4 linked regions of the Homo sapiens genome follow. The protein of the gene in region 1 purifies or fractionates together with the protein of each later gene. This does not show direct contact. Each region holds a gene or a part of one and is shown in the gene's direction. Other genes may lie near its edges. The genes, in order: IDI2, LMX1B, ISL2 and FAM76B.

The links.
Region 2: the proteins of IDI2 (region 1) and LMX1B purify together in Homo sapiens (affinity purification with mass spectrometry; 3 studies listed by BioGRID and IntAct, with this or other methods). This does not show direct contact.
Region 3: the proteins of IDI2 (region 1) and ISL2 purify together in Homo sapiens (affinity purification with mass spectrometry; 2 studies listed by BioGRID and IntAct, with this or other methods). This does not show direct contact.
Region 4: the proteins of IDI2 (region 1) and FAM76B purify together in Homo sapiens (affinity purification with mass spectrometry; 3 studies listed by BioGRID and IntAct, with this or other methods). This does not show direct contact.

Annotation. Positions count from the first base shown.
Region 1 is NC_000010.11:1,017,179-1,023,694, reverse strand, and holds the end of IDI2 (isopentenyl-diphosphate delta-isomerase 2), read left to right. Parts: intron 1-911; exon of another isoform or gene 912-919; coding exon 920-1,012; exon of another isoform or gene 1,013-1,058; intron 1,059-2,797; coding exon 2,798-2,928; intron 2,929-3,762; exon of another isoform or gene 3,763-3,860; coding exon 3,861-4,178; 3' UTR 4,179-4,785; downstream 4,786-6,516. Other genes in the region: GTPBP4 (GTP-binding protein 4), read right to left, coding at 6,468-6,516. UniProt on the Homo sapiens protein: Catalyzes the 1,3-allylic rearrangement of the homoallylic substrate isopentenyl (IPP) to its highly electrophilic allylic isomer, dimethylallyl diphosphate (DMAPP).
Region 2 is NC_000009.12:126,616,928-126,623,927, forward strand, and holds part of LMX1B (LIM homeobox transcription factor 1-beta), read left to right. Parts: intron 1-7,000. UniProt on the Homo sapiens protein: Transcription factor involved in the regulation of podocyte-expressed genes. Essential for the specification of dorsal limb fate at both the zeugopodal and autopodal levels.
Region 3 is NC_000015.10:76,331,751-76,340,737, forward strand, and holds the start of ISL2 (insulin gene enhancer protein ISL-2), read left to right. Parts: upstream 1-5,022; 5' UTR 5,023-5,133; coding exon 5,134-5,191; intron 5,192-6,027; coding exon 6,028-6,217; intron 6,218-6,501; coding exon 6,502-6,764; intron 6,765-8,525; coding exon 8,526-8,809; intron 8,810-8,987. UniProt on the Homo sapiens protein: Transcriptional factor that defines subclasses of motoneurons that segregate into columns in the spinal cord and select distinct axon pathways.
Region 4 is NC_000011.10:95,767,404-95,773,799, reverse strand, and holds the end of FAM76B (protein FAM76B), read left to right. Parts: intron 1-2,149; coding exon 2,150-2,239; 3' UTR 2,240-4,847; downstream 4,848-6,396. UniProt on the Homo sapiens protein: Negatively regulates the NF-kappa-B-mediated inflammatory pathway by preventing the translocation of HNRNPA2B1 from the nucleus to the cytoplasm.

The DNA of each region.
Region 1 (6,516 bases):
CCTCTCGTCATCCCTCCCCACTGCCCTTCGCAGCCTCTGGTGTCTAGCATTGTGTTTTCTGCCTCCATGAGATCAACTTCTTTAGAGCCCACATAGCAGTGAGAACATGTGATACTTGTTTTTCTGTGCCAGGTTTGTTCCACTTAACACAATGGCCTCCAGTTCCATCCATGTTGCTACAAATGACAGGATTTCATTCTTCTTTTTTTTTTTTTTTTTGAGACAGAGTCTTGCTCCATTGCCCAGGCTGGAGTGCAGTGGTGCAATCTCAGGTCACTGCCAGCTCTGCCTCCTGGGTTCATGCCATTCTCCTGCCTCAGCCTCCCGAGTAGCTTGGACTACAGGCACCTGCCACCACGCCCAGCTAATTTTTTTGTATTTTTAGTAGAGACGGGGTTTCACCATGTTAGCCAGGGTGGTCTCGATCTTCTGACCTCGTGATCCGCCCACTTCAGCCTCCCAAAGTGCTGAGATTACAGGCGTGAGCCACCGCACCCGGCCCGATTTCATTCTTCTTTTGTGGTGGAATGGTATGCCACTGTGTATCTAACCCTCATGTTTTCAACCCTTCAAACCTCCACGGACACAGGTTGATCTCATATCTTGGCTGTCGTAAATGGTGCTCAGCACCCAGGAATGCTGCGATATCTCTCTGATAGACTGATCTCTTTTATTTTGGATATTTGCCCTGGTAGTGGGATTTCTGGGTCATCTGGTAGATCTATTTTTAGTTTCCCGAGTGTTCTAATCCGCTGAGATTCTGAAACGTTGTGTTTGGGCATCCAGCAGTCCCCTTTGCCCTGCCCAGGTGCCACAATCACAGGCTTTTCTACGAGAAACAGACTGAGGACAAAAAGCACGAAGGACAATCGTACAGACTCCAGGCATGCACTCACACAAATGGCACTTACCTTTGCAGGGCTGCTGCACCGAGCCTTCAGCGTTGTCTTGTTTAACACCAAGAATCGAATCCTGATACAGCAGAGGTCGGACACGAAAGTCACGTTTCCTGGTGAGTCCGTTCAACCAAGCCCCGGACTGAAGAGAGCATCTCATGTGACTTGACCGGAGGAATCTGGGACAGGAACTCTCTGGTGCTCAGTGCCGCACTGTGGTGAGCTGGCAGCTCATCCTGCAGAAAATCGGCAGCTTAGGCAGATGCTAATTATGCTGATAGCTCTTCAGTAGGCTGGGTTTTCTTTTTTAAAAAAGTAAGAAACTATATGAGTTTCTGGGTTTTTTTGTTTTGTTGTTTCTTTGCAACGGCAAGTTACTTAAATGCAGAGGAATTTATCAACCTAAGGATTTAGGGGATTAAAATAGCATTTAGCATAAAATTAACTAGGTAATAATAATAAAAATTATCTTACAGGTCTTAGAGTTTTAATTATCTTGTACTTCTTAAAATTACAACTTAAAATTTTTTTTTTTTTTTGGAGATGGAGTCTGGCTCAGTCACCCAGGCTGGAGTGCAGTGGCGCCATCTCGGCTCACTGCAAGCCCCGCCTCCTGGGTTCACGCCATTGTCCTGCCTCAGCCTCCCAAGTAGCTGGGACTACAGGCGCCCGCCACCACACCCGGGTAACGTTTTGTATTTTTAGTAGAGACGGGGTTTCACCGTGTTAGCCAGGATGGTCTCGATCTCCTGACCTCGTGATATGCCTGTCTTGGCCTTCCAAAGTGCTGGGATTATAGGCGTGAGCCACCGGGCCCGGCCAAAAAATTTTTTAGAGGGGAACAGCATTTACGTCAATTGTGGTCATTTAAAGTGTTTTGGCCTAGGCTGTCCTCAAATTTTCAAAACCAGACCTTGCCTGAGCCATTAAAGCGAATGGCTAAGCACGGCCAGCTGTGGCCGAGGTTTTCTCCTCCCTTAGTTCTTCCTCGGAGCCGCAGTGGGTACATCCTGCCCATTCCCAAACCCACCACCATACTTGCTGGTCAAGTTGTACTCACGGGCTCCTTGATGGAGCTGAATGCAAAGTTTGTTTCAGAAAAATTCAGGAGCTGCAAAGTTAAGAGGGTCAACTGTAGTACATAGTCAACAGTTTGCAAATAAAGCCCCTGGAGCTAAGATTTCCTATCATGTGTTAGCCGCCTCCAGGATACATAGGGGCAGGTGGGAGTACCAGCTCTTGTACTTGCAAGAGTGGATTCAACTTCAGCCAAACTCCTTGCAGAGTGACCGAAGGAAGCACTGAGGGTCTGAGGAACGAGAGGGAACAGAGATTTACTGAGGAGAGTGTGACCTCCCGTCATAGCGCTATTGCTGTTACTTGGGTAAATTAAGTAGAACCTCTCAGTAAGGAAACTTGGTCAAAGGTATTCCAGCAGTCTTCCTGTGAAACCATGCTCACTGATCACCACCCTCAAAGTGCAGCCCAGCTTCCTCAGCCCAGCTGGTGCAGCCACCCAGCCCACAGCCCCACCACCTCCTCCCGCCACCCCATGGCATCTCAGGTCCTCTGTGGGTACAAAACTGAGTAGGAACCAGTCCCTCTCCTAAGACATACTGGGATAGTGCCACGGGACATGTGTGTGCACATCTGCAGGAAGGGCCGCAGGAGCGGTCAGGGCCAGCCCCGCCAGGTGGTCATGTGGAAGACCCTCACCAAGCCCACAGCCGTGGAGGCTGGAGGCGAGTGCTGCTCTGAGAGCCCATGACAAACCCACTCCCCCCGCCAGGCTGTCTTCTGCTGATGACGGATGATGGTTTTACATGAAGCATCTGCATTTGTATTTAATATATTCACTTTTCAGGAATAAAGAGGGATGTTCCCACATGCATTTTTTCCAGGGTATTTTACCGACTCCTGTAGTAGCCACCCATTATACAACCCAGCAGAACTGGAAGAAAAGGATGCCATCGGAGTGAGGAGGGCAGCCCAGAGGCGTCTGCAAGCAGAGCTGGGAATTCCTGGGGAGCAGGTACACACAGCATCCAGTCTCAGCTGTGTCCACGGGAGTCCAGGTTGGCAGCGGGCAGACGGTGAACAAAGTCCAGGCTGGATCTACACCATTGACCTCATGAAGCACCATGAGGATGAAGGATGGGGCTGTGGATGGGGCTGTGAATGAGCTGTGAATGGGGCTGTGAATGGGGCTGTGAATGTAGCTGTGGATGGGGCAGTGTGAGTCCCTATGTGTCCCAGGCAGGGTTGAGACTGTGCAGGAATCTGTCGACCACACACCGAAGAGGAAATTCAAGCCGGGCGTGGTGGCTCACGCCTGTAATCCCATCACTTTGGGAGGCCGAGGCGGGCGGATCACAAGGTCAAGAAATCAAGACCATCCTGGCCAACATGGTGAAACCCCGTCTCTATTAAAAGTACAAAAATTAGCTGGGCGTAGTGGCACACGCCTGTAATCCCAGCTACTTGGGAGTCAGAGGTTGCAGTGAGCCGGGATTGTGCCACTGCACTCCAGCCTGGCGACAGAGCGAGACTCCATCTCAAAAAAAAAAAAAAGAAAGAAATTCAAGTGTAGAAAGAATGTCCAGGATCCTGTGAGCATGTGTTACCTTCATCCACTCAAGAACACGTTTAAGAGAGGATGGATGTTCTCCTGACAACGCTAGCCGGTTTCTACGGGGTTTTCTGTTGAGGATGTGTGTGTGACACGGTTAGTTCTTTAAATGAAGACAGACAGGTTTACTGGAACCAAGAAACCAAAGCCGGTTTATCATTCAGACTTGAGTCCACAAAAATTTACTTAGCTAAAATCGAGGTTTTGGAAATTATCAATTACCAAAGAAAGTGTTCATTTTCTGAGGAAAACAAATGTGTTTATTTTCTCTATTTTTCTGTAAATTCTGTGTTTTACATTAGCGTTGTTAACACTGCACCAATTTCTGTCAATAGATTTCTCCAGAGGACATTGTGTTCATGACAATCTATCACCACAAGGCAAAATCAGACAGAATTTGGGGAGAGCATGAAATTTGTTACCTTCTGCTTGTGAGGAAAAACGTCACTCTGAACCCGGATCCCAGTGAAACGAAAAGCATCCTCTACCTGTCCCAGGAGGAGCTGTGGGAGCTGCTGGAGAGGGAGGCGAGGGGTGAAGTCAAAGTCACCCCCTGGCTAAGAACCATTGCCGAGAGGTTTCTGTACCGGTGGTGGCCTCACCTGGATGACGTGACCCCGTTTGTGGAGCTTCACAAAATACACAGAGTGTGAGAGGCAGGGAGGTCGAGTCAGCCATGTGTAATGCCCTCAGTGCAGGCAGACGCACCATTGAGGCAATGATACACCCTCTCCAAAAAACAGGGCAAAAGGGGCACTTGATTGCCCATCATGTATAAATCACTATTTCAACCTTTTCATCAACTTTGTCATATCTTCATTTTCCCTTTTCCTTATTTCCATATTTCTCATCTGCCTGGTTGCAGGGAGGAAATTTAACATTTCCTTTGTCCCAATTTCCATTTTATAAGCACTTGTTTGATTAACAGCAGCTGATCCTGAAAGTCTTGGGGAGATCTTGAGAGTCCTGAAGCAGGCGGACTAGCCTGGCTGGACCATGAGGCTGTCTCCCCACAGCTTTATCCAAGCCTCCAAGGTCAGGATGGGATCTCTGTATCATGTTTTTCTTTTTAAATCACTTATTTCAGAGTGCAACACAAGGCTGCATTTTTAAAAAAAAGACACATTCAATCTTGCATCCTAATACAAGCAGTACGGAAGATGCGTATGGTCTCAGCCAAGTGACTCGACGTTTATCCACTTCTGTTCATTTGATCGTTTCAGTAATATGCTTACAAATAAAGACATACTTGCTTTAAAACATACTGTTGTTGTTTAACACAAAGTAAACTATATGTTAAGTTTTGGTGTTTAATACGGAGAAAGAATTTCAAAAACCAGACCTGGTATTTTTTTTTTTTTTTTGAGATGGAGTCTCGCTGTCGACCAGGCTGGAGTGCAGTGGTGCGATCTTGGCTCACTGCAAGCTCCGCCTCCCGGGTTCAAGCCATTCTCCTGCCTCAGCCTCCCAAGTAGTTGGGACTACAGGCGCCCGCCACCACACCCAGCTAATTTTTTGTATTTTTAGTAGAGACGGGGTTTCACCGTGTTAGCCAGGATGGTCTCGATCTCCTGACCTCGTGATCCGCCTGCCTCGGCCTCCCAAAGTGCTGGGATTACAGGCATGAGCTGCCGCGCCCGGCCATACTGTTGTTGTTTAACACAAAGTAAACTATATGTTAAGTTTTGGTGTTTAATACGGAGAAAGAATTTCAAAAACCAGACCTGGTATTTTTTTTTTTTTTTTCACACGGAGTCTCTCTCTGTCACCCAGGCTGGAGTGCAGTGGCACGATCTCGGCTCACTGCAACCTCCGCCTCTGGGCTCAAGCAATTCTCCTGCCTTAGCCTCCCGAGCAGCTAGGATTACAGATGCCCACCACCACGCATGGCTAATTTTTGTATTTTTAGTAGAGATGGGGTTTCACCATGTTGGCCAGGCTGGTCTCGAACTCCTGACCTCCTGATCTGCCCACCTCGGCCTCCCAAAGTGCTGGAACTACAGGCTTGAGCCCCTGCGCCCAGCCCAGCCCTGGTAAATTTTTAAAATTGCCACATGTAATCCAGAAGTGTGATTAACTAAAGTCCTTTCCTCAGCTATAATGTTGATTGTGTGACTTGATAACTTATCCGTGGTGGCTCTTGGACCCCTGTGTGTCTTTGGAGCTCCAGGAGCACACGGACCCCTGGGCAGGTCCCTCCGACCCCACAGCTCTTCACCCCAACGCTCCCCAGCAGGTGCTTTTGAGGTGGCATTGGCGGTGTTTTTGTGTTTTACTGAACATGTAACTTCAGGGACGGGCCACAGAAATAGGAGAATGCCCATATTTAATTGCCTAATGCCTCCAGCAACATTTTACTCCCCCAAAAGTATTTTTGCTTTAAAACAAAATAGAAATGTCATGTTGTTTGCCTTTTTATTTGGCCAAATCCATAGCGACTATAACTAAACCAAAACATGAGCTAAGTAAATGAAAACTACTTTCTTCTGGAGGTTTATTTTGGATAAAATAGTTGAAGACAGACTACAATGAGACATTGTAAAATAAGACTAGAAAATAATTTAAGAGCGTATTTTAAGCACGGGATTCCGACACACTCATAAACGTGTTTGCTCCCAGCTCTTACAAAAGAAAATAAGGTTTTTCTCCATCAAAAACAACCTAGTTAAACCAGTAAATCTTCCCAGTTCTGAAAATCTGAAGCAACTGATACTCCATTAAATGTGGAAACACTGTCTACTCAAAATATTTGTAATATTATGCAGTGACAAAAATTTCCCACACCTATATAGGGTTAACCATAGTTTTCAGCAAAGCAACAAGTGCTTTACTTATTTTGTCTTTTTCAGTTTATACAGAGCTCCAATTTCATGAAACCATACTGTGCCAAACCAGGAAATAAACAGCAACACTCTAGCGAAGCCACGCCAACCAAACGGATACTATCTCCTGTCCTTTTTACCAGCTTTCCTCTTCCCAGACAGCAAGTGC
Region 2 (7,000 bases), on another chromosome or scaffold:
GGGTAGGGATTGGAGTCCATTCAGAGGTTCAGCTGTTTTGCTGGTCCCAGAGTGCAGCTGAGGCCTTCCTCTCAGTAGGAAGCACCCCAGATTTAGGCACACTGCCGTAGGTCGGCTTTGTGCTGTGCTCTGAACTAATATGATTCTAGTTCCGGGAGAGGGAGACGCCAGTCCGTTCAGTCACAGCCCAAGCATAGAGCAGCACAAATTGAATGGGGAAAATAGTTTGGGGTAGATGTGGCTGTGGGCTCTGGGCTGGCTAGAGGAGCCCCTCTGTAGGGTGCACCAGCCTCTAGCCCCCTCCCCACCACGCCCTGCACCCCTGGCCTCACTCTGCTTGCCTGATCCCGAGCTCTGGCAGTGCCACTTACACCCAGCTCAGCCACCAGCCTTTACGACAACACATGGGGGAAGGGGGCCCAGGAAACTAAAACCGGCCTCCAAATCATTTGCACAGCTTAAAAAAAAGAAAAAAACTTGTTAATATATTGAAAAGACTTATGAATCGCGTGTACATATTCTGCCCTCCCCCCACTCCCCATAATTATTTACGGAGCTTCTCTTTAAAAAAAAAAAGGAAAGGATAACCCCTGGTTCTTCAGGCACAGAATGGTAAAGTCACGAAATTTCAGCTGGATGTTGCCTTAGAGATGAGCGGCTCACCCCCTCATCTTACAAAACAATTAAACGTTAAGCATTTGCTACTGCTTTGTCCAAAGTATATTTGTTTTAAAAAGAAAAGGAAAGAGTCACCTAACAGCCAGCTTCTTCAGTGCAGTCCGGTGTGTTGAGAATGATTTTTGGCACAGGGCGAATCTCAGGTCCGAAGACCTCACTCAGTCTGGATCCTGTGGGGCTGAAGCCTGGGGTGGGGAGTGCATTATTCTAGCTGTGGACAGTTCATTCCTCCACCCTCATTCTATTTTTTCCAATAACGCCAATTAGGTATCTGCGTTAGGCCGGCCGGCAGGATGTGCTGGGGGTGGGGGGTGGGGGGTGGGGTGATTGTTATCAGGACAAATAGCCAGTGAGTCGTTTCACAGGGAGATGGAGCGCCGCTCCAGGCAGGCAGCAGCCACTGGAAAGGGATGTTCTTTGCACAATAAAAATTTTTTTATTCACATTTCTTTTTTTCTTTGAGAATTGCAGATGCATATTTATTTCATCTGTGCGTAAATGCTTTTCAGACAGGAATCCAAGCAAGCGGGCGCAGAAACGTGCCTTCTTGATATTGTCGAGTCTGTGCGTCAGCGGTATTGAGAAATTAACAATCCCCCCACCAAACACAACTTCTGAAAAATGTGTCCTCACCCCTGGCTGAGTTGCAGGGCTCCGTCCTTAAAAAGAGGTTGCCATTTTTAGTAAATGTCTCTTCTTCCTTTCGATTTGTTCTCAAAGATCCCAGACACCCAGAAGTGCCAAGTTGTCTTACGCACCACGGGGGTGATTAATTGACACTGGGGCACATTGAGCCGAATTTGATAAAAATCCTCTTGTACATCCTTGGCGGGCAGAGCAGAGCGCCGGCCGTGGAGTTTGGGCATTTTCACTCTTAACTCCAAAAGTCTCCTTTTTCCCCATGTGTGAGTTTTGGGGGCTCCTTCAAAAAAAAGAAAAAGCAGCCTTTTCGGACAGAAAACCAGTTAGGAAACGGAGAGGAAACGCAGCCTCCCCCAAATCAGAACACCTCTCACCGTCCTCCACCGGAGAACAAATGAAAAATAAGGCACTTTCCCCCCTCCCATGTTTTTATCTTGGCGGCTTGGCCGAATAGAATTATGTAACTCTCTTTTCTTGCCGTCTGTCGCTCGTCTGGAAAGGGTTTTTATCCTGAAGAGGTGGAGAATTCCTGGAGGAGGCTCCGGAAGGGGGGAGGGTCGGTGGGAGAGTCCAAAAATCTGTCACAAAATGGAGTCTAATCGCTTGTAAGACAGCTCCCAGGTTTGGCGACCCGAGACCCGCTGGGGTGCAAGCGGGCGCCTTTGTGCACGGCGAGACGCGGGGTTCCGGCCCGGGCCGCGCTCCTACCTCGGCGGCGGGGCCGCGGCGTCCTTCCGCCCGCAGGGCCTGCCCGGGCGGCCGAGCCTCTCGGCGACACAGACTTCAGGGCTCCGCCGGGCCCGCTGGGGGCCCTTTGGGCTCGCCTGTCCAGGTAGGATGTGCCTACGTTGGCAGCAGGGGAGCATCGAGGCTTTGATTGAGTTTCACAGAAAGCCCTCTTGAGTCCTGGGGTGAGTTTTTAAAAAATTTCCCCCAGCTGGCTGTGGCTCCAGTGGCCCAACCGCTCTGCCCTGCGCATTCCTTTCCTTGGAAGTGTTTACCCCGGGAAAGACCTTCTTGGGAGGCTCACCTCTCCCCCCACACTCCCCATCCAGCTCCCGCGTTCGGGTGTGGCCCAGGGGGAGAGCAGTCAGGCTCCGGCCTTCTCTGGCTACTTCTTCTGCCAGCCTGGAAGGCCTCCCATAGGCCCTCCTGCAGGGTGCCAGTCTCAAGCAGCACCCCTTCCCCAGTGTGTACCCCAACCAGCGAGCCCCCCTGCCCCAACCATCAAACTCATTCAGGGCTGCAGAGCGCCTGTCCTGGAAACTGCTTGGGAGGAGGAGCCAGGACTTTGCCTTACAAAAAGGCTTCTATGGTGCTGTCTCTGGGGGCTGAGGCCCAAAGGGCTCACCCTGGCAGCCCAAGTCTGGGGACCCTCTGGCCCTTTGGAGGGTACCTCTCCATTTAACCCCGGCACCTTGGCTGTGTGCAAGACGGTAAGCACAGGCCTTCCTGAGGCTGCAGTCCCCTGCTGCTGAACGGAGGCATTATTCACAGTGACTCCTGGCTCACCCTCGACTCCCCGGGCGCTGGGCTGGTGTGGCCTTATTTGTTTGCCCTATTTTTCTTGAGTGGGGGAAGCAGGCTGGGAGGATCTCCTCTGGGGTATGTGATTGGTGACTGTCAGCTCTTTCCTGCCCTGTCCATTGGAGCCAGGCTTAGAGACCCACGGCCGTGGCACCTACCTGATCCTCCTCTGTGAAATGGGGACTTATTCTGCTGGGGGCAAGTATTCTTATAAGGACTTGAGATAAGGTGCCCCAAAGGACCTGGCATCTTGCCTGGCTTGTTATTAATACTCTGGAAGTTATTGCTGTTACTCTTCTCACCATGAGCATGGCAGGGAATACCTTGTCTCCAAGGACACACACCACACTGCCAACAGGTTCTCTACCCAGGTTCCATGGTACACAGGGTTTACCATGAGCCTCTCCATGCAGGGAGGATGAGGAGCACCCTGGGGAAGCCATTGCCTTTCCCTTCGTAGGACACTGTAAAAGTCTTGCCTTCCTCAGCCATGAAAAGAGCTTTAGACTCGGAGTCAGACCTGAGTTCACCTCCCAGCCCCAAGTCTTAGCAGCTGTGTGATCTTCGCTAAGTGGTTGCCCATCTCTGAGCTGGGGCCTCATCAACAAACTGGGGGTGATGATGTGACTTTGCAGGGTGGTTGTGAGGATTACACAGGCACCTGGTGGAACTTTAATAAATATTCCATTCTCCGGGGGATCCATTATCCTCTCCTGCACCTCAAGAGAGGTGGAAAACCTGATTGTGTGGGTGCGCACAGGTGCCAACTGCATTATCAGAAAGGGCCACAACAGGGTGGCCAGCTGTGCTGGGCTCTTTCTCCTTTGGGGGCAGACGGGTGTGCTGTGCTCTTTCTCCCTGGGGGCAGACGGAGGGTGGCCGGGTGTCCTGTGCTCTTTCTCCTTGGGGGCAGACGGAGGGTGGCCGGGTGTGCTGGCTCTTTTTCCTTTGGTGGCAAACAGAGGGTGGTCCAGAGCAACAGTATTTCCACCGGGAAACAATTGGCATCTCCAGGGCCTCCATATAGCTTGGAAAAGCTTAATAATTCATATTTGAAGAACTGTTTGTACTTACTGTTTTGTGATTGAAGCCACAGAAAATAAAGCTCAGCCAATGGAGAAGGGGGTAGGTGGAGGAGAGGTCTGGGGGATTTGTCTATTTCTCAGAAGGAAGATGAGGTTTAAAAGGTGGAGAAACACCATTCCAGGAACTCAGAAGGCCCCTCCAGCTCGGGCTCTGTGGCCTTGTGAGGTTTCCACCCATGGGTGGCTGGCGATGCTTCTCCAAGGAGCCGCCTTTGTCCTGAGGCTCTGGAGTTTCTAAAAAATAAAGAAAAGGAAGAGGAAAAAAACCAGTCCTACTTTGGCATCAGTTAGGCTGAAGGATGGAGGATACTCTCACCGACATGAGTTATAACTTCCAATTTGTTGGACACCACAGTCAAGCCTCAGCCAGGGGAGGGAGGAAGGGAGGGATAGTCTACTCATCCAAGGAGCCGCGTGTGAGCTGTCAGTCAGTTGGGGGTGCCCGAGGACCCAGGGCCCTTGGCTGTCTGGCTGACCCAGCCGGAAGTTCCTCTGGCCCTCTCCAACCAGATTCTGTGCTGATGGCAGCAAAGAGCAAAACCAAAATTATATATATTTATTACCACTGCAGTCAGAAGTGGAGAGACGGTGGTAGTGAGAGAGGGCTAAGGCTGAAAACCATATTTGAAAAAGTTGATTCACGAAGGTAGAGGAAGCAAAGTGGCAGACGTTTGCCATTTCATCGACCGGCTGGTGTTCTCCATTCATGTCATAAATGTCTCCTGTCATTTGATGCCAAAAGCAACATGATTTGGTTCCCCGGTGGCCTATAGGGTTTTTCTCTCTCTCTCTCTTCTTTTTTTTTTTTTTTTTTTTTTTTTTGCAGTAAATGTTTATTTGTTGATAATAGACTTTAAACAGCCTAGCCTTGACCTCAAGTCTCCTGAAGCATCCATCTTCTCTCAGAAAAATGTTTCAAAGTTTGTGTAATTTTGGGGGGAAGGTGTAACTGACGGGGCAGTGAAGGGCTTGTGTTTGCTTTAACTACTGCTGCGGTGAGGAGTGGTGGGGCATAAGGGGCCACTGTGCTCGGAATGGCAACTTTCTTGGGTTTCAGGCCGGCTGACAGCACTTCCTCTCTGCCCTTTACCTTTGCTTTGCCTGATCAGTACAAATAAATTTCTGCGTGGGCCCTTCCTTTGTTATTCCCTGGATAATATTGTATCCATTTCTGCTCAGCATTTTGACTGGCAGCCGCTGGACCTGCCCTGCTGACCTTGGGGCCCCAAAGGGAGGATGAGGGGCTGGGGATCTGGGGATGTGTGGGTACATTTGTGGGGAGGCTTTGTCTCAATTGGGAGCTTGGCTCGGACCAGCCCTGGACGAATGTCCTGGCTGATGGCAGAGCACCTGGCTGGCCTTGGCACTTGGTGAACTGGGGGGAAGTGTTGCTGAAGGAAAAACCCGGTTCCTGGAGCCTGGTTCCAGAAGAAACAAAGATGTTTGCTTCCTGGCCGGGCCAGTGCTGTGAGAGAGGCTTCCCCGGGAACTGTGGGGAGGTGGCTAGCTGGGGAAGGTTGTGACGGCCACCCAGAGCAACAGCGATGCCCACTGGGGCTGGCAGGAATGAGGAGGCCACCGAGCTGCTGGGTAGCTGAAGATGAGCTGAGCATGCTGAGACACAGGGCCGCCAGGGGTCCCTCCCCCAAGCGCCTCCCCAGGAACTTCAGCAGCGGTGACGGGAGGGGAGGAGCAGCACTGGGTTGGGATGGGACAAGTTGGGTGTGACTGCTGTTCCCCCTTCTCCCGCCTCCTGCCTTCCAAGGGGACTCTGTGACTCTTGTCGTGTGATTCCTGGATTGCTATAGTTACTGGGCTGTTGGGTGTGGGCGCCAGACCAGGACTGAGCTGCCCAGGCCTTTGGGGTTCCAGAGGATCAAGGTGCTCTGGGGTGACCTCCTCCAAATGGAGGGGTCCTGGGTGGGGCACATTTTCTCAAAGGAAGAGCAAGCTTGTTGGCAGTTACAGAATGGGGATCCAGAATGTCTCCATCTCCCAGTGACAAAGGCCAAGGGCCTTTAGGGAAGGACTGACAGCTCTTCCTGAGCCTCAGTTCCCTTCTCTGTGAAAAGGGGGTAGTAATTCCAATCTTACAGGGTTGCTCTGAGAATAAAGTGGAACAAACCCAGATGCCAGCCAGTGTTGGGCATGCAGTCAATGTATGTTTTCTTCCTTCCTGCTGGGAAATGAGCCGAAGGCAGCCCCGTCTGGCAGGAATGCATTGTCTGTCCTGCGTGGGAGGCCCAGAAAGTGCAGCCTCCTGAACAGGCCTCCCAGAGGGGTCTTGCCCACCCTTCTGTTCCTCACCCAGGTTGGGAGCCTGTGTTTTTATTTTTATTTTTTTTCCCTTGAAAAGGGCATGGGGCCGGTCTGGATGCCAGAGGCTGCTCCTCGGAGCCAAGGCCAGCCTGTGGATGGGCCCTCATTACTACTGAGACACGTAGGTCCCATTTTTTCCAAGAGACTCCTGAGCATGGTCAGTGTAGATGTGAACTTGCAGGAGCAGCGCCTTACTGAACAGGGAGGCAGCCTGCAGTAGTGCCTCTAGAAGGGCAAGGCATTGGCGTTTGTTGAGCCCCTGTGAAGTTCACTGTCTGTACCGTCCCAACCCTGTGGTTAGGGGAGGAAACTGAGGCTGAGCAGCTTGAACAACTTCCCCAGGCCCAGAGTTAACTCTGTAGCAGATTTTTCCCGGCCCAGAGTTACCCTGTAGCAGATTTCCCCCCCAGGCGGGTCCAACTCCCAAAGCCGGATGGGTTCTCTAAGTCCTCCTATACCGACCTTCCGGAAGGTGCGGGCTCTACATTGTTGCTAATCTCCCCCAGAACGCCCAGCCTGGGAGGGGTGGGGAGGGGGAGTCGCTACCCGAGGGCTGGGAGCAGGGTGTCACTGACCTCCTCTGCGCGGATTGCCCCCTGTAGGGCCAGCCCTGGCCAGCGGAAGAAAAAGGTTAGAATAATTGCCTTCCCCTGGGCGGGAGAGCTTCCTTCGACGTCCGGACACGCGGATGGGGCGGCTTTCAGCGGCCTCCACCCGCGCACCCCTCCAGGCCCACCTCTCGGCGGTTC
Region 3 (8,987 bases), on another chromosome or scaffold:
TCTCAAACTCCTGACCTCAATTGATCCACCTGCCTCGGCCTCCCAAAGTGCTGGGATAATGGGTGTGAGCCACTGCCCCTGGCCATTGAAATTTTTTTTTTGAAAATTTTGATGATTATATTTCAAGATTTTTTTCTGTGCATGTACATGCACATACACATACATAAATACTCAAACTTTTTTTAAATTATACTTTAAGTTTTAGGGTACATGTGCACAACGTGCAGGTTAGTTACATATGTATACATGTGCCATGTTGGTGTGCTGCACCCATTAACTCGTCATTTAACATTAGGTATATCTCCTAATGCTATCCCTCCCCCCTCCCTTTTTTTTTTTTTTTTTTTGAGACTGAGTCTCGCTGTGTCGCCCAGGCTCGAGTTCAGTGGCGCAATCTCGGCTCACTGCAAGCTCCGCCTCCCAGATTCACGCCATTCTCCTGCCTCAGCCTCCCGAGTAGCTGGGACTACAGGCGCCCACCACCACGCCCGGCTAATTTTTTTGTATTTTTAGTAGAGACAGGGTTTCACCATGTTAGCCAGGATGGTCTCGATCTCCTGACCTTGTGATCTGCCCACCTCGGCCTCCCAAAGTGCTGGGATTACAGGTGTGAGCCATCGCGCCCGGCCTGAAATTCTTAATAATTTTTTAAACAAAGGGTCGTGCATTTTTATTTTGCAATGGGATCTGCAAATTATGTGGCCATTCCTGCTCAGGAGATTGGTGGGCACTTTAATGAGACCTCATACGGCTGCTTAGCCCAGAGCCCCAGCTACAGCACGTGCTCAGTAACTTAGGGAAGAGAGAAGGGGACTCAGGAAGGAGTGAGAGGGGCCCAGCAGTGCCTGTGGGTACCTGTTTGCTCAAAGGGAATCTGGGGTTGGGGAGGCAGGCAAAGCTGGGGAGAGAGCATGGGTCTTGGATGTCAGGAAGCCTGAAGCCTGACCTTGACTTGCCAAGTTTCTTCCTGCCCCCAGGCCTTAGTTTCTTCTTTGAAACATGGTGCTCCATCCCTATCTCAAAAGCAAGTTCTCAGATGCCTGTGGTGGGTGAAGATGTGGATGCTGAGGCTGTCTCTGGCCTGCTGTATTCAACATCTCCAACTACCTTTGGAGAAGAGTAAAAGCCTTTGGGAGTGGGGCAGAAGGAGAATGGAGGGGGATGGAGCCTGGAGCAAGAGGAGAAGCCTGGTCCAGTGACTTAAGCTGGGCAGCAAGGTCTCAGCCCTGGACAGCAGAAGATCATCCAGAGGGAGTCCAGCAGGAAGAGGTCTGGCCTGGGTTAGGGGACCTGGCTTCCGGCTCCATCTCCATCACATGCTGGGTAACAGGTCACCAGGCCTCAGTTTCCTTCCTGATATTCACAGTAGGACTGATGCTCCCACACTAGCAACAGCTTCCTCTGTGTTGGCTGGACATTGTGCATGGGGCTGTGCCTTTGTAAGTGATGTGGTAGAGGAGGTTTTGGGGAGAAAATAATCAGGGAGACTTCTCTGTGCTTCTGAACTCTCCCCAGTACAGGCTAGTTTTATGGGATAAAGCATAGCTATGGAGCTCAAGCTGCCATTCCTGATAAGGAGAAAGTGATCTAAGACCCAGGATAGGAGGCACCCAGGTCTCCTGCATGCCAGCCTGGGATGTGGAGAGTGTGTGGCCCCTCCATACCTGAGAAGGGAGCAGCCAGGAGGCAGAGAACCAGGGTAGGGCCACATCAATGGTGCCTGTGGCCGTGCCCAGCAGGTGCAGGTGTTTTCTTCTCCCATGTCAGTGCTGGTCTCTCAGGGGTGGCTGTGACCAGAAGTCACACATGGAGTGATTTTGAAATGGATCCCTGGTTTTACAGCTCCAGAGATGTGAAATGGGTGAATGATGGAGCTACACTCATGTGGCTCTTCAATGGCACAGTGAAAAAAGCAAGCAAGATGGAGCCAGATAGACCTGGGTTCAATGCCAGCAATGATTTAACCTGTGACCTGAGGCAGTAACTTCCCCTCTCTGAGCCTCAGTTTCCTCGAGGATTGGAGGGGCCCAATACTACTCACCACATGGCATTACTTTTAAGACCTAATAGGCTAACAACAAGGACTTTGCACATGGTGGCCCTGAACAAATATTTGTTTTGACCTGGCTTCCTAGCATCCCAGGAGGGGTGACCCTCTCCAATCCCCACCTCCCTAGTGAAGTTTCAAAGGACAGGTTTTTCTGGACGGGAAGGAAGAGTTTCTCTGGGCAGGAGACGGTTAAAAGCTGGGACTACGATTCCAGCCTGGGGCTGCCCCCTCCTGGCCAGCTGTCTGAACCCCTGAATTATAGATGTGCTTGCTCCTGGCCTGGCGAGCAAGAGCTAGTAGGTGCTGGGAGCCAGGCCTAGTCCAGGGTCACCTAAGGGTAGGGCCATTGGGCCAGACGCACCTCCTCACTCCACATGCAGACACACACACCGAGTCCCCTCCCAGTTCTGACTGTGCACCCACATTCACAGATATAACCTGTACACAAAGTCTATGCACAGACCACACATCTCCAAACCCCATCTACACAGCAGACACACACACAGCAAGCACACATCGAAATCACAAAGAAATCATCAGATGACACATACTGAGACATACTTAGACCTCCCCTCCCCATCCAGACACACGCAGGCAGGGTGGGCAGAGGCTCCCAACATAAAGATACAGCCACAGTCATAACTGTCATAATTAACACATATGGAGCACTTACTCTGTGCTAGGTATTGCTCTAAGCCCTTTCCAGAGAACAGTTTATTTAATTATTATGTAATAGAGATAGCTACAATTATTATACCCCCATTTTACAGATGAGGAAACTGAGGGAAGGAGAATTAAAATAAGATGCCTGAGGTCACACAGGTGTCCTGGCACAGCCTCAGGCACAGATACCCACCCCCTCGCTCTTGTCCCCCATTTACATAAACACATTCATTCAAACGCAGCATCCCCCAACCCCTGACCTGCCCGCACACACTCAGGGTGAGCGCTCTTTGGGGGACTGTTGACTAAAGACGCAAGAAATGGCCTATTGGCCAACGGGTGGTAAACTGTAACAAGAGCCGGTCCGGTGGCCCGGCGCGGTGGCTCACGCCTGTAATCCCAGCACTGTGGGAAGCCGAGGTGGGCGGATCACGAGGTCAGGAGTTCGAGACCAGCCTGACAAACATGGTGAAACCCGGTTTCTACTAAAAATACAAAAATTAGCGGGGCGTGGTGGCGCTCGCCTGCAATCTCAGCTACTCAGGAGGCTGAGGCAGGAGAATCGCTTGAACCCGGGAGGCGGAGGTTGCAGTGAGCCGAGATCGCACCATTACACTCCAGCCTGGGCGGCACAGCAAGAGTCTATCTCAAAAAAAAAAAAAAAAAAAAAAAAAAAAAAGCCGGACCGGTGAGAAGACTAGACCTCCTAAAGGTGGAGGCGGAGCTCAAAAGCCGGACGCTACTGGACGAGGCTTAAAGCGCTCGCCCCAGCGCGGGGCCGGTGAGGAACGTTCACCGTGGACCATGGTCGAATAATGTTAGCGTGCACTCGGGGCCTCGCCCTAGCCTTCTGCAAAGCCTCGGCCTGCGCCCTCGGCTGCATCCGTTTCGACGCCAACCAACCTCATGCTCTTAGTAGAACGGCAGTAGCGACCGCGCCCTCAGGCCCACAAGCCCGAAGGTCTGGGCAGGGTCTGGAATGGCGGTGGAGACACTTTATCCGCAGGCGTTTCACCTCGCGCCCCACCCAGGCGCACACCAAGTTCTTGGTACTCCTTTTAATGGGAAAACAAGAACAGACACCATGGTTGGATAAATGTTATTTATAATTCATGGGCCGGTCTTTGAACCCTTTCAAACAAAACCCACAGCGATTTCTTTGAAAGAATGCCTGGACTGTGCTCAGAGCTCTCAGATTTTCTCAGGACCAACGAGCCGCCGCCTCGCAGATACCACTGTAAATTACCCAGCGCCTTACGTTCGTTTCTGATTATTTGCATTGCAGTGGGTTTGTTAATGAAGGACAAGAGTTTAGAAAAATCTTTTATTTTGGAAGTTGGACACGCAATCGACCCCAGCAGTGTTCCTAAAAGGAGCTATGCCATTTGGATGGGGGAAAAATGAGGGGGCGGGGAAGTCCATGTTACATTTAAAACAACAACAGCAACAAATTAAAAGCAAAACAAAACAACAAAAAAAAGGAAGTGGAGCAGGAGGAGGAGGTGGTGGTGGAGGAGAGGGAGGAGGGGCAGCAGCAGCGGCAGCAGCAGCAAGGATGGAGTCAGGACCCGTCCCAGTCCCGGGTGAGCGCTTTTGGATCTGGGTTCTGGCTCAACCCACGTAATGCCCCAATCTAAAGTTTTCTACGTGTGTGTGGATAGGAAAGTCTAAATAGAGTTTATCAGAACCCAGGTGGTCATTCTCTACACTCTCTCTAGCTTGGACCCGAAGAACAAAGGCACATGAGAGGAGAAAGGTGACCAGCTGGACGATGACGGTCACGTCCAAACGGATCCCCCTTGTCCTCGGCTCTCTCGTCCTGAGAGTGGGTTTAATTTTTTTTTTTTTAATTTATATAAGAAGGGAGCTCTTAAAGGAGAGCCATCTCCACCCTCAGGTATCCATCACCCAGCTCCAGCGCGCCTGGGAAAACCGCCCCGAAAGTCCAAGAGGAAGCTCAGAGTTGTAACGGCCGCGGAGCCAGCTCGGCGGTGACGCAAGGTCCAGTCCAGATTGCCAGGCCCGGGGCATGAGAGAGGATCCTTGTAGGTTTCGGAGGTGGGGGGGCTGCACTCCATTGTTCACTCCGGGCCAATCAGGGTTGGCCCACTTCCTCCCAGCCAATCTCCCTTCACCCCCAGCCTCCAACCCAACCCACCCCGCCCATCAGCCCCTGGATCCCCATCACCTCCCCCGCATCCCCGGCAGTTCTGGGGAAGCTTCGTGACGCCACAGGTCCCGCCCCCAGCTCCGGCCCGGGGCTAGTGCGTGTTGACGTCATGCTGCGTGCGGGCCGGTGCGGAATCGCTCCTTCAACTCCGCGGGGCAGTAGGAGTTAGTTAGCAAAGAGCCGAGGCCGGGCGCGCGACCCTCGTCCTTCTGCCCCTGGCCGCACACTTTGCGCACATCTCTTTTTCTGCATGGTGGATATTATTTTTCATTATCCTTTTCTGGGTGCTATGGGTGATCATTCCAAGAGTAAGTATTTCTGTGTGTGTGTGGGGTGGGGTGTGTGTGTATGCTTAATATGCAAAATTTCTAATGCAGAAAAATGTTTAGTGGATTCTACAAGTGGCTTCTATTTGTCAGAATAGTTTAGGAGAGGAAAAACGAATGCATGTCTCCTGCAGGACTGCTTATCTTTGGGAATCCTGTTGTTTTATTTTATAAGTAAACACTATTTCTCAAGCCGGCTAGGATGACTTCGGGCTGCGAAATCTGCTTCTGTTTTGCGCAAAGGCAATTAGGTTTGATTTAGGGATGTGGGTTTTTTTTTTTTTGGTTGTTGTTTGTTTGCCTTTCGGTTTTTCAAAGCTAGGAAGCTTTCTTTCGCTTGCTCTGGGATATTTAAACTAAGAAATGTCTGAGAGGATGAGCGGGGACTGCCGAAAGACGATGTGTCTGTGTTGGGATAGGAGGCAGCCGCTGTGAGTGGGAGTGTGTGAGCGGAAATGCCAGGACAGCACCGTTAGGTGTTGATATCCAGGCGTCCGCAGTGCCTGTGTATTTACTCTCTTCTTAGTTTCGTGTTTGCGTTTAGTTTCAAGACACGTCGACAAAACGACTGTCATTAATGAATGTAATAACGAAATATTTGGGGTGGGGGACAGAAGAAACCTTCAGCAATCCACAAGATACTGGTTTTTCGTTTCCAATGCCCTGGACCTTTAGAGAGCTCATCATCTTTCCTTATGGTCGCAAGTCTTGAAAGAAAGAGCAAGAGAGCGAGCGGGTTGGGTTGGGGCTGGAGTAGCCGAGGCCGGCCTGGGTCCGGGCAGTCAGGCCTGACGCGGCCCCGCGCCCTTCCCCGGCAGAGAAGCCCGGGACGGCCATGTGCGTGGGCTGCGGGAGTCAGATCCACGACCAGTTTATCCTGCGGGTGTCGCCCGACCTCGAGTGGCACGCGGCCTGCCTCAAGTGTGCCGAGTGCAGCCAGTACCTGGACGAGACGTGCACGTGCTTCGTGAGAGACGGGAAGACCTACTGCAAGCGGGACTATGTCAGGTGAGGCCGGCGGGAACGCGGGCTGGGCCACCGCGCGCAGGGGCCGGGGCCGGGACTGGGGATGGCGGCCTGCCCGCGCGCCCCGGCCCTGCCCAGGGAGAAGGCCATCCGCATCCCGCACGGGTGCCGCAGCGCTCCCCCGGGCCCGGGAATGCCCGCAGGCGGGTCACCGCAGTCTCCTGGTGGCCACAAAGTGTCCTGGGCGCGCGCCGGAGCCGTAGCAGCCAGGGAGATGAGGGCGGCCGCAGGCCCAGCGCTGACACCGCCGCACCTTGGGCCCGCAGGCTGTTCGGCATCAAGTGCGCCAAGTGCCAGGTGGGCTTCAGCAGCAGCGACCTGGTGATGAGGGCGCGGGACAGCGTGTACCACATCGAGTGCTTCCGCTGCTCCGTGTGCAGCCGCCAGCTGCTGCCTGGGGACGAGTTCTCGCTGCGGGAGCACGAGCTGCTCTGCCGCGCCGACCACGGCCTCCTGCTCGAGCGCGCCGCGGCCGGCAGCCCGCGCAGCCCCGGCCCGCTTCCCGGCGCCCGCGGCCTGCATCTGCCCGGTAAGCGCGCCGGGGCCTGTGCCGGGGTGAGCGGGGTGTATGTGCGTGCGTGTGTGTAGGGGTACGCTTGTGTCCCTAACGAGAAGTTGTCAGTTGTGTGTGGTTCCGTCTGCCGGGATAGTGTTTTTCTGTATCAGTGCGGAACTGTGTGCTGGGAACAAGGCTGTGTGTATTCTCGTGTGCTCGGGAGAAACTGCGTGTGTATGAGTGTGTGAGCACGGAGAATTGTGCAGAATCGTGTTCTCCATGACCAGGAACATGCAGGGCACAGTGCTAGGAGCAGAAGAGTGGATGACAACAGGGAATCTTAAGTGGTGTCCGTCTTGGGGCTTGTATTAGGAATTTCTTGGAGGAATATGTGTTATTGTCAGAGGGTAAGGTTTGCCCAGGGGTATGTGTGTAAGTAACACAGCTCCAAACTGGGAGCTGGGCAGGAGCTTGGTCAGCCAGGAGCCAAGAACCCAACAAAGAGGGGTTTTTGCCATCTTGTTTTGAGGCCCAGTTTGATGAACAATTTAGCCAGGTTCTTCTGGGGGAGGGGGAGTATCAATGCATAGTGGACTGTCACTGGAATATTCTGGGTCCTAATCAGCAGCTGCCCAGAGATGGGGTCTGAGTGTATAATGGGCAGGTACGGCTGAACAGAAACAGAGGTGCCTCCACCCCAGGCAAGGCAGTTTCCCCCAGGTAGCCATAGGCCTGCAGCACAGATCCGTAGACCAGGCTGGGCCTCTGGGTGCTGTGTGGCCTTGCCCCGCTCCTCCCCTCTCTGGATCTTCACTTCCTCCCTATAGAAAGAGGAAACTGGGCTGGATGGGCTATTTGTAAATATTTGTCCAGACCTAGAAATTCGTAGAGGGGAACATAAACCGAAATGGTGCAGTACAGATCCACGGTATATATGGGTCGGGATCAAATGGAGATGTGAAATGGGAGCAAGCGGGTATTCAGTGCACCCCCATCTGGGATCTCGGAGAGGCTCCCCTTTGTTTGTTTCGGGCTTCAGGGTGCAGGCTCTGGAATCAGTCACTGTTTCCCCGGGATGGAGAGAACCTGGGGCCAAGCGAGGAGAGTGCCAGCGGCTGCTCAGCACCTTGGTCGGTGGGAGGCCACTGGGCTGGGGAACCTGGAGCCTTGAGGAAGGAGACAGGGGCCGAAGCCCAAGGGCGGGCAGGAAGGAACTGTTGCAAGCCCTGGAGGCCCGTCCATAACCGTGGATGAGTCTTCTACACATGTGGCCTGGCCCTGTCCAAATGGGCTCTGAAGGAGGGGAAGGGCCCTCGTAGGCCCCCGGCATATTCGCACCTCCCACCCAGTCCCCTGGGCAGCGCCTCGCCCTGGGTCCACGTCGGTCCCTTTCCCTCTCCAGAGTCCTGGGCAAGCCTCTTTCCTCTTCCTCTGAAACTCCGACTTCTTCCGGAGGGCTTCGCTCGTTCCGAGGGTCCTGCGACTGGAGGAGGCACATCCCTGAGCAGCCACTCCCTCCCCGCAGCGGCCTGTCGCCGAGCTCCCGCGCCCTGCTTGAGCTCGGGAGAGATCGCTGCGGGGCAGTCCGGCCCGGGAGCGAGAGAAAGAACGAAAATGCACAGCTCTCTCCGAGTAAGGCGAACAGATGGAGAGGAAGACGAACAATTAAACGAAACAAACAGAATAAAACAGAAACGAAATCGGGCCCCGGGGGGCTGGGCCACCCGGAGGTTGGGCTCGGGGCGGGTGGGTGGCGGCCCCTCGCTAACCTCTGGCCTCACCCTGTCCTGGCAGACGCTGGGTCGGGCCGGCAGCCCGCGTTGCGCCCGCACGTGCACAAGCAGACGGAGAAGACGACCCGCGTGCGGACTGTGCTGAACGAGAAGCAGCTGCACACTCTGCGGACCTGCTACGCCGCCAACCCGCGGCCCGACGCTCTCATGAAGGAGCAGCTGGTGGAGATGACCGGCCTGAGCCCGCGGGTCATCCGCGTCTGGTTCCAGAACAAGCGCTGCAAGGACAAGAAGAAATCCATTCTCATGAAGCAGCTGCAGCAGCAGCAGCACAGCGACAAGACGGTGAGCAGCCGCTGGGCCGGAGGCTCGAGTCGGGTGGGGGCTGCGCTTCCGCCGCGGTATCTGCGTGCCCTTTTCTGGGCGAGCCCTGGGAGATCCAGGGAGAACTGGGCGCTCCAGATGGTGTATGTCTGTACCTTCACAGCAAGGCTTCCCTTGGATTTGAGGCTTCCTATTTTGT
Region 4 (6,396 bases), on another chromosome or scaffold:
ATCAAGTTAAAACTCTTATTCACTTAATTAGGTAAGTGGTTAAAAGGAAAAGGGACCTAACATTTGAGTGCCTTCTGTGTACCAGGAACTGTGTTAGGCTAAGTGTTTTATATATTTGATAAGTTCCTTCAACTCATTTTGAGTTCGGATGGTGGAGTTTGTGTTACAAATGAGAAAATATGCTCCAGGTTATGTAGCTGGTAAGTAAGCCAGGATTTAAAGCAGGATCTATGTAATTCTTAATCCTGATATTCTTTCCTTTGCACCAACATGTCTAAACTTTAAAACTTAGCTTTCTTAAGAGTCTGTAAAGAATTTCATTGATTTTTTTTTTTTTTTTTGGCTGGCTGCAAAATGAAGTAATTTTAGGATAAAACAATTTAAATGTACATATATTGAAATATGGCATAAAATTCATTTTTAAAGTATTCAAATTAGAATAATTTGGACTTGTACTTAACAATTGTGTTATTTATTTACCATAAAGACTTTTGTCTTATGTAATTTATTAAGAAATATCTTTATTAGTGATATAAATATATTAAAAGCAAATTGGAAATTAGCTACCAAAGCATTAAATGGAAAAATTGCTTTGAAGACCTAATGTTCAAATTATTGTATTTTGTACTTAAAATATGAAAATTATAAACACTTTATTTCTTGATAATTGAGATAAGAACTTGGAGATTCACATTTTAACTATTTTGTATCAGTATAAACATTTTTAGATAAATATAACTTAACAGATCTAGTGGAGATCTTTTTGAGTCAAATTTGCAGACTCAAAATTTGAAATTGATACTGAATTTGAAATTGAAGTTTTTCGTTACCACCTTAGTTATTAATAACCACTGAATAGGAAAGTTCTATTGATCATGCATCTGAACATAAAAAATTATTTGATTTGCACATATAAGATAGTACTGAGAATATTTGCATTTTAGAGGTCATGGGTGTTAATTAGCAAGAGTGATTGGAGAAGAAGGGTGGGGGAATGGAAGAATAAAGTTTGAAAAAGGTTATTTCATGAAACCACTTTAAGATGGCATACAGAGAAGGCAGAGTGTTATCTGCCCGTAAAAAGCTAAAATTAGAATAAAATATGAAGTACTGAGATTAAAAAAGTCTGTCTATATAATAAAAATTCCTGGAACCTGTGAAGGAAAATGGTGTTGAAACATAAGTCAGAGGATATCTTTTTAAAATGTGTTAATTTTAGGGCAGTGCTCTATTTTCATCACTTTCCCCATTTTGGCTCAAACTACAAAAATGCTTGATCATTAATGTATTTGTATATATAGGGATCCTTACTATCTAAGTTTTCATATTTAAGAGACTGAATAAGGTGACAAAGGCAGTCAAAATGTGAAAATATTCACTGTACTTACACATTCCTCTTCACTAAACTAGTGATGGATGGACATTTAATAATGAAATTCAAGTCAGATGATGAAATGAAATTTTGAATCTTTGTAAAAATTCAAGCTTTCATGAGATAGGAAATGATGATGTGGAACTGCTCAAACCACACTAAAATCAGTGTCAGATGACTGGTAACTAAAGGAACAACAAGATAATGAGTGGTTCTGATGGGTGCTTTAAAAAAAATTGAATATCATTGGGTGCATTTGGCAAAGTAACAAATTCTGAGTTGTTTTTGCAAAAATGACCTCTTATGCTTGTTCTACAAGAGAGTAAACATAGAAAAAAGACCTTATACAGCTTGCCAGGAAATACTCCTCCCAAATCTTGATTCATTCTTTGATTTTATTAATTGTAAATTACAACTTATTTTCATAGTTTTCATGTTTTTAAGATGAAGGGCCAAACACCTTTTCCCTATTAAAATTTGGACCTTCTTTTAAGTGGATTCACTTTGTTTCCTTTTTTGTAACCAATTGTGCATCTTTGGACACAATTATATTAATAATGACATATACAAAGGGGGCTGATGAGCCAATCTAGAATTTTCCTTCTGCATGTTCATCCTTAAAGAGATGAATGTAAAGGTATCAACTCTTTCATTTAATGTTAGTGCTTTAGTGAAACATTTATATAAATGAAAACAGTATTAAATAAGTAGTATTCTTCAGCATGACTTAATAATATTTCAAACATTTTTAATCTTGAATGTTTTTGTCTCCCACAGGCCAAAAACAGAGAACTACTCAAACAGGTCGCAGCATTATCAAAGGGTAAAAAATTTGACAAAAGTGGAAGCATACTAACATCTCCTTGAGAAAGTCATTTGTTTAGCATTTCTTCTTACAATGTAAATTTGGGGAAAAAAAATTCTGTGAAGCCCTTAAATTCTGTGTAGTAGAAAAATATTTTTGCACACCAAATGAATTGGTGTGTTTCCTGTTCACTTTTGTAATTGATATACAGCATTTTTTAAGTTGTAAAACATTCAAATAAAACTTCAACTGGTTTGAAGTAACTTTTTAATTATTTGATATCCAGGAACTTTTTTGCCAGCAATAGTATTAAACAGTTGTAAAGGAGTGCATGAGTAGTGCTCTTTATGAAACGCAACATGCAATAATAGAGTAGGTATGGTTTCAGAAGTCAGAGCAGCAGGGTTTTTTTGTTTTGTTTTTGTTTTACACTATGCTAATTTCAGACAAACAGTTTTCAATTTAGAAATACAAAAACTTTTAAACTCGAAAAATGGCGAACACTGGTTTTTTGGGAATTGTGTTTTTACTTTGCATCAAGATGAATTTAGGAGAAAATCACGGTGCTTTTATTAAATGAACTTCAGATATATGTAAATTTGTTTTTTAAAGTTACATCATTAACATTAGTAACCTAGCATTTTCATTATTGGTATAGGAATTAATGTTTATTGTACAGTATCTAAGGTAAAATGTGTTTCTGTTTTGTAAAAACTACTGTAGATTTTTACTTACAAGTGCCTTTTTGCCACCTAATGTTTTTATTTATAGGAATGCTGATCTTTTGTACATACATTTTGTTTTAAAATCATGTTTAATAAATGTTTGTATATAAATGCATATGTACAGAAGCCTATTTCAAAAGGAAATCAAAGTTGCTAGTAAAATGTTTGAGATTACATTTAGAACTAACTGATAATGCATATAGATTGTAGAAAATTTTGTGATTTGTTTCTGTGTGATAAGGGAAGCTGTTGGTCTTTGAATTCATTTAATTATGTCAAAATAGTTCCCCAAAGATTTAATTTTAAGTTGCTTCTTAAAGAGTAATTTTATTTTTTATGTCATGTGGCTTCATATTAGTATTGTGTGAGTTACATGTTTTGCTTTATATTTTATAAAATTTTTTAAAAATTTTAATGTTTCTGCAATGATCCATGTATCTGCTTTCCCTATGTGTGGTTATCTAAGTTAATATTTATGTACAATGTAATTTGTAAATTTAAAGCAAATCTGAAAAAAATTAAATGATCTTTTTAATCCAATCTGTGATAATCTTTGAATAAATTGGAATCTACTATAAGATTCAGGCATTATAAGTAAATTGTCCTAAAGTCTTTAAAATTGTCTATAAAAGGTTAAGGTAGGGTGGGATAGGTTATATGAAGTTATTGACTATATTCTGATCCAGCGGTTTTCAGCCTGAAATAGAATTTATCTCCTAGTTATTATCAGTTCAGAGTTTTAGTTTGATTTTAAAGTATTGCTAGATACACTGTATAGAGTGAGTTGCTTCTCTTAATAATTTATGGGCAAAGATAAATTTGCTTCATGTAAAACTGTTACTAAATTTATAAGTTTTAAAGGTTTTGTTTTATACAAGCATTGATTGTGAATGTCATATCAAAGATTGGCTTTCTTAAGAACACATGATTGAAACAATTTTTTTTTAACATGACGTGTTTCAATAGACTGTTCTCATAGTTCATTATAAAGTGAATACCAAATAATTCTTTGTCCATTTTGAAAGCATAATATAGGGTAATTTTCAAGTGATACAAAAAGATTCAGTTAGAATCTTGTAAACTAAACCAGTTTATTTTTATGGGATCTTCATGTAATAATTTTCTTAAATTTAGTACTCTCAACCATGATAGATAATGCCTTAACATGGATTTTAACGTTTGCAGGATTTGCTAAATTCATAAGATAGTTATTACCTTTCTTTGAAATTTGTAATGTTTTATATTCTTGTTTCATAGCCATTTGTCAGTCCACAGTGGTCATTATGGTTTTACTTTTTGATAGTTCTTACACCTTGTTGGAGAAACTACAAAAGAAAGTTGTCCTCGTCCTTCCCCTTAGCTAACATCAAAATTAAAAAGTTGAATATTAATATTAGCTAACATTAAAATGGAAGGTAATTCAGTTTTAGTGTTAGCTAACATTAACAGTCTAATAATTTAGCTTTGTAAATTCCAAGGCTAAAACCCTTTCATGGGCTTCACAGTATTTAGTCCTAATTAAATACCCTTCTTTATTCCATGACCTTATTTTATAACTTAAATTTTTTTGCAATTGTATAAATTAGTAATTCAGTCCCAGTCCTGGATCTCTGTAGTGTTTTGACATAATAAACTGATATTCTTTAAATGTGGACCTGTAAGGAGATACTATGGTGTGGTGTATTGTGCTTTTAGCCTGTTTTCCACTATTAATTAGCATTTACCAGTAAGGGTCATTTTGACTCAAGTTATTTATGTATTAATAGCCTGTGAATATTGCAGTCCTTTTTAGATTATATTGGTCTAAATATGCATTCTGCAGTGAACCTGTTAAGCTGTTCACATGTATAGACTATTGAAATACTGTACTTGTACACATCTGACTGTTGACATTTTGTACTTTTTTCTAGATCCAATATTTCACAATAAAAAACTTGTCAAAGGCTTTGTATTAGTTTTCAATGGCTGCTGTAACAAACTCCCACACACTTAGTGTCTTAATACAACAAAAATTAATTCTTTTATGGTTCTGGAGGCCAGAAGTCCAAAATCAGGTTTACTGGTCTAAAGTCAAGGTATTGGCAGGATTGCTTCTTTCTGGAGGCTGTAGGGGAAAATCTGTTTTCTTGCCTTTTCCAGCTTCTAGAGCTGCATTCCTTGCATGCTATGAGCTCATTGACCTTTATCTTCAAAGCCCAAATTGTAGCATCTCAAATCTCTCTCTGCTGCTGTCATCATACCTTCTCAGAGTGTCTCCCTCTGTTCCCTCTCATAAGGACCTTATGAGAACATTATTGGCTCCACCTGCACAAACAACGTAGTTTTTCCATCTCGAGTTCTTAACCTAGTCACATCTGCAAAGTCCCTATTGTCATATAAGGTAATGTATTCACTGGTTCCAAGGGTTCGGGCATGGACATATTGGGGGACCATTATTGAGCCTACATAGCTTCATCTACATTTTACCCCCTTTTTCCAGTATGAAACCCTGAAACAACAGATACATGAGAGAAGTTTAGGCCAAACATTAGAAACTATTTTCCTGTCTGTCCATTCAGACCACTTTAGTGCAATAGTTATTTTTCCTGGAAGAAATAAATTTGCATCTAATTGAGCAAGTATTTCAAGCTATAGTTAAGTTTTTGAAAGCTTTGGAACATGACTAGTACCATGCTAGATTGTTTGATAAGTTAAAAGTTGAAGGTGTGATTCTTTCATTTGTAGACTAGGTGGGCAGATACTGTGCTTGGGAAAAAATCTGGAACCTAACTTTGGTATTATAAAGTGTAGTAAAAGCTAACAGCTTTTAGCAAGGGCATTTCAAGACTTCAGGTGTAGTCCCTTGTTTCTCAAACGTTAGTATACATCAGAGTTACCTGGAGGGCATGATAAACACATGTTGCTGGACCTTATCCCCAGTTTTCTGATTCAGTGGGTCTGGGATGGAGCCTAAGAATTTTCAGTTCTCAGTTCTCAGGTAATGCTGCTTCTGGCCCAGAGCTCACATTTTGAGAACTATCATTTTAATATTCCCTGCATTTCCCATACAAACTATACCATTGGGTAGGTAAGTAGTAGATGGGGGGTAGTTTCTCTTTAAAACATTCTAATGAAAAAGGAAGGATGGAATTGCAACATCACTATTTTGCAACCTCTCATGGAGTTAAGGATTGGTCATCAGCAGCTACTGACAATACACAAACACATTCTTAAGTGCTTTCTGATGGAGGAATACACTGCTACCTATAAAGTTTTGCCAAAAAGAATCAAACCTAAATCTGACGAAGCATCTACCAATTAACCAAAAATAGAAAGGATGGAAGATCATGTTGAGTGACACCAAAAGGATACAGTTGGCACAGTTGTTCAATAAGTTGCAAGCAGAGGGAATCAGTGGAGGGAGAACCTATAGTATAAAAGGTACTTAATATAAACCAGTCACAATATGTGACCCTGATATGGATCTGGAATCAAGAAATTAAAAATTTTTAACA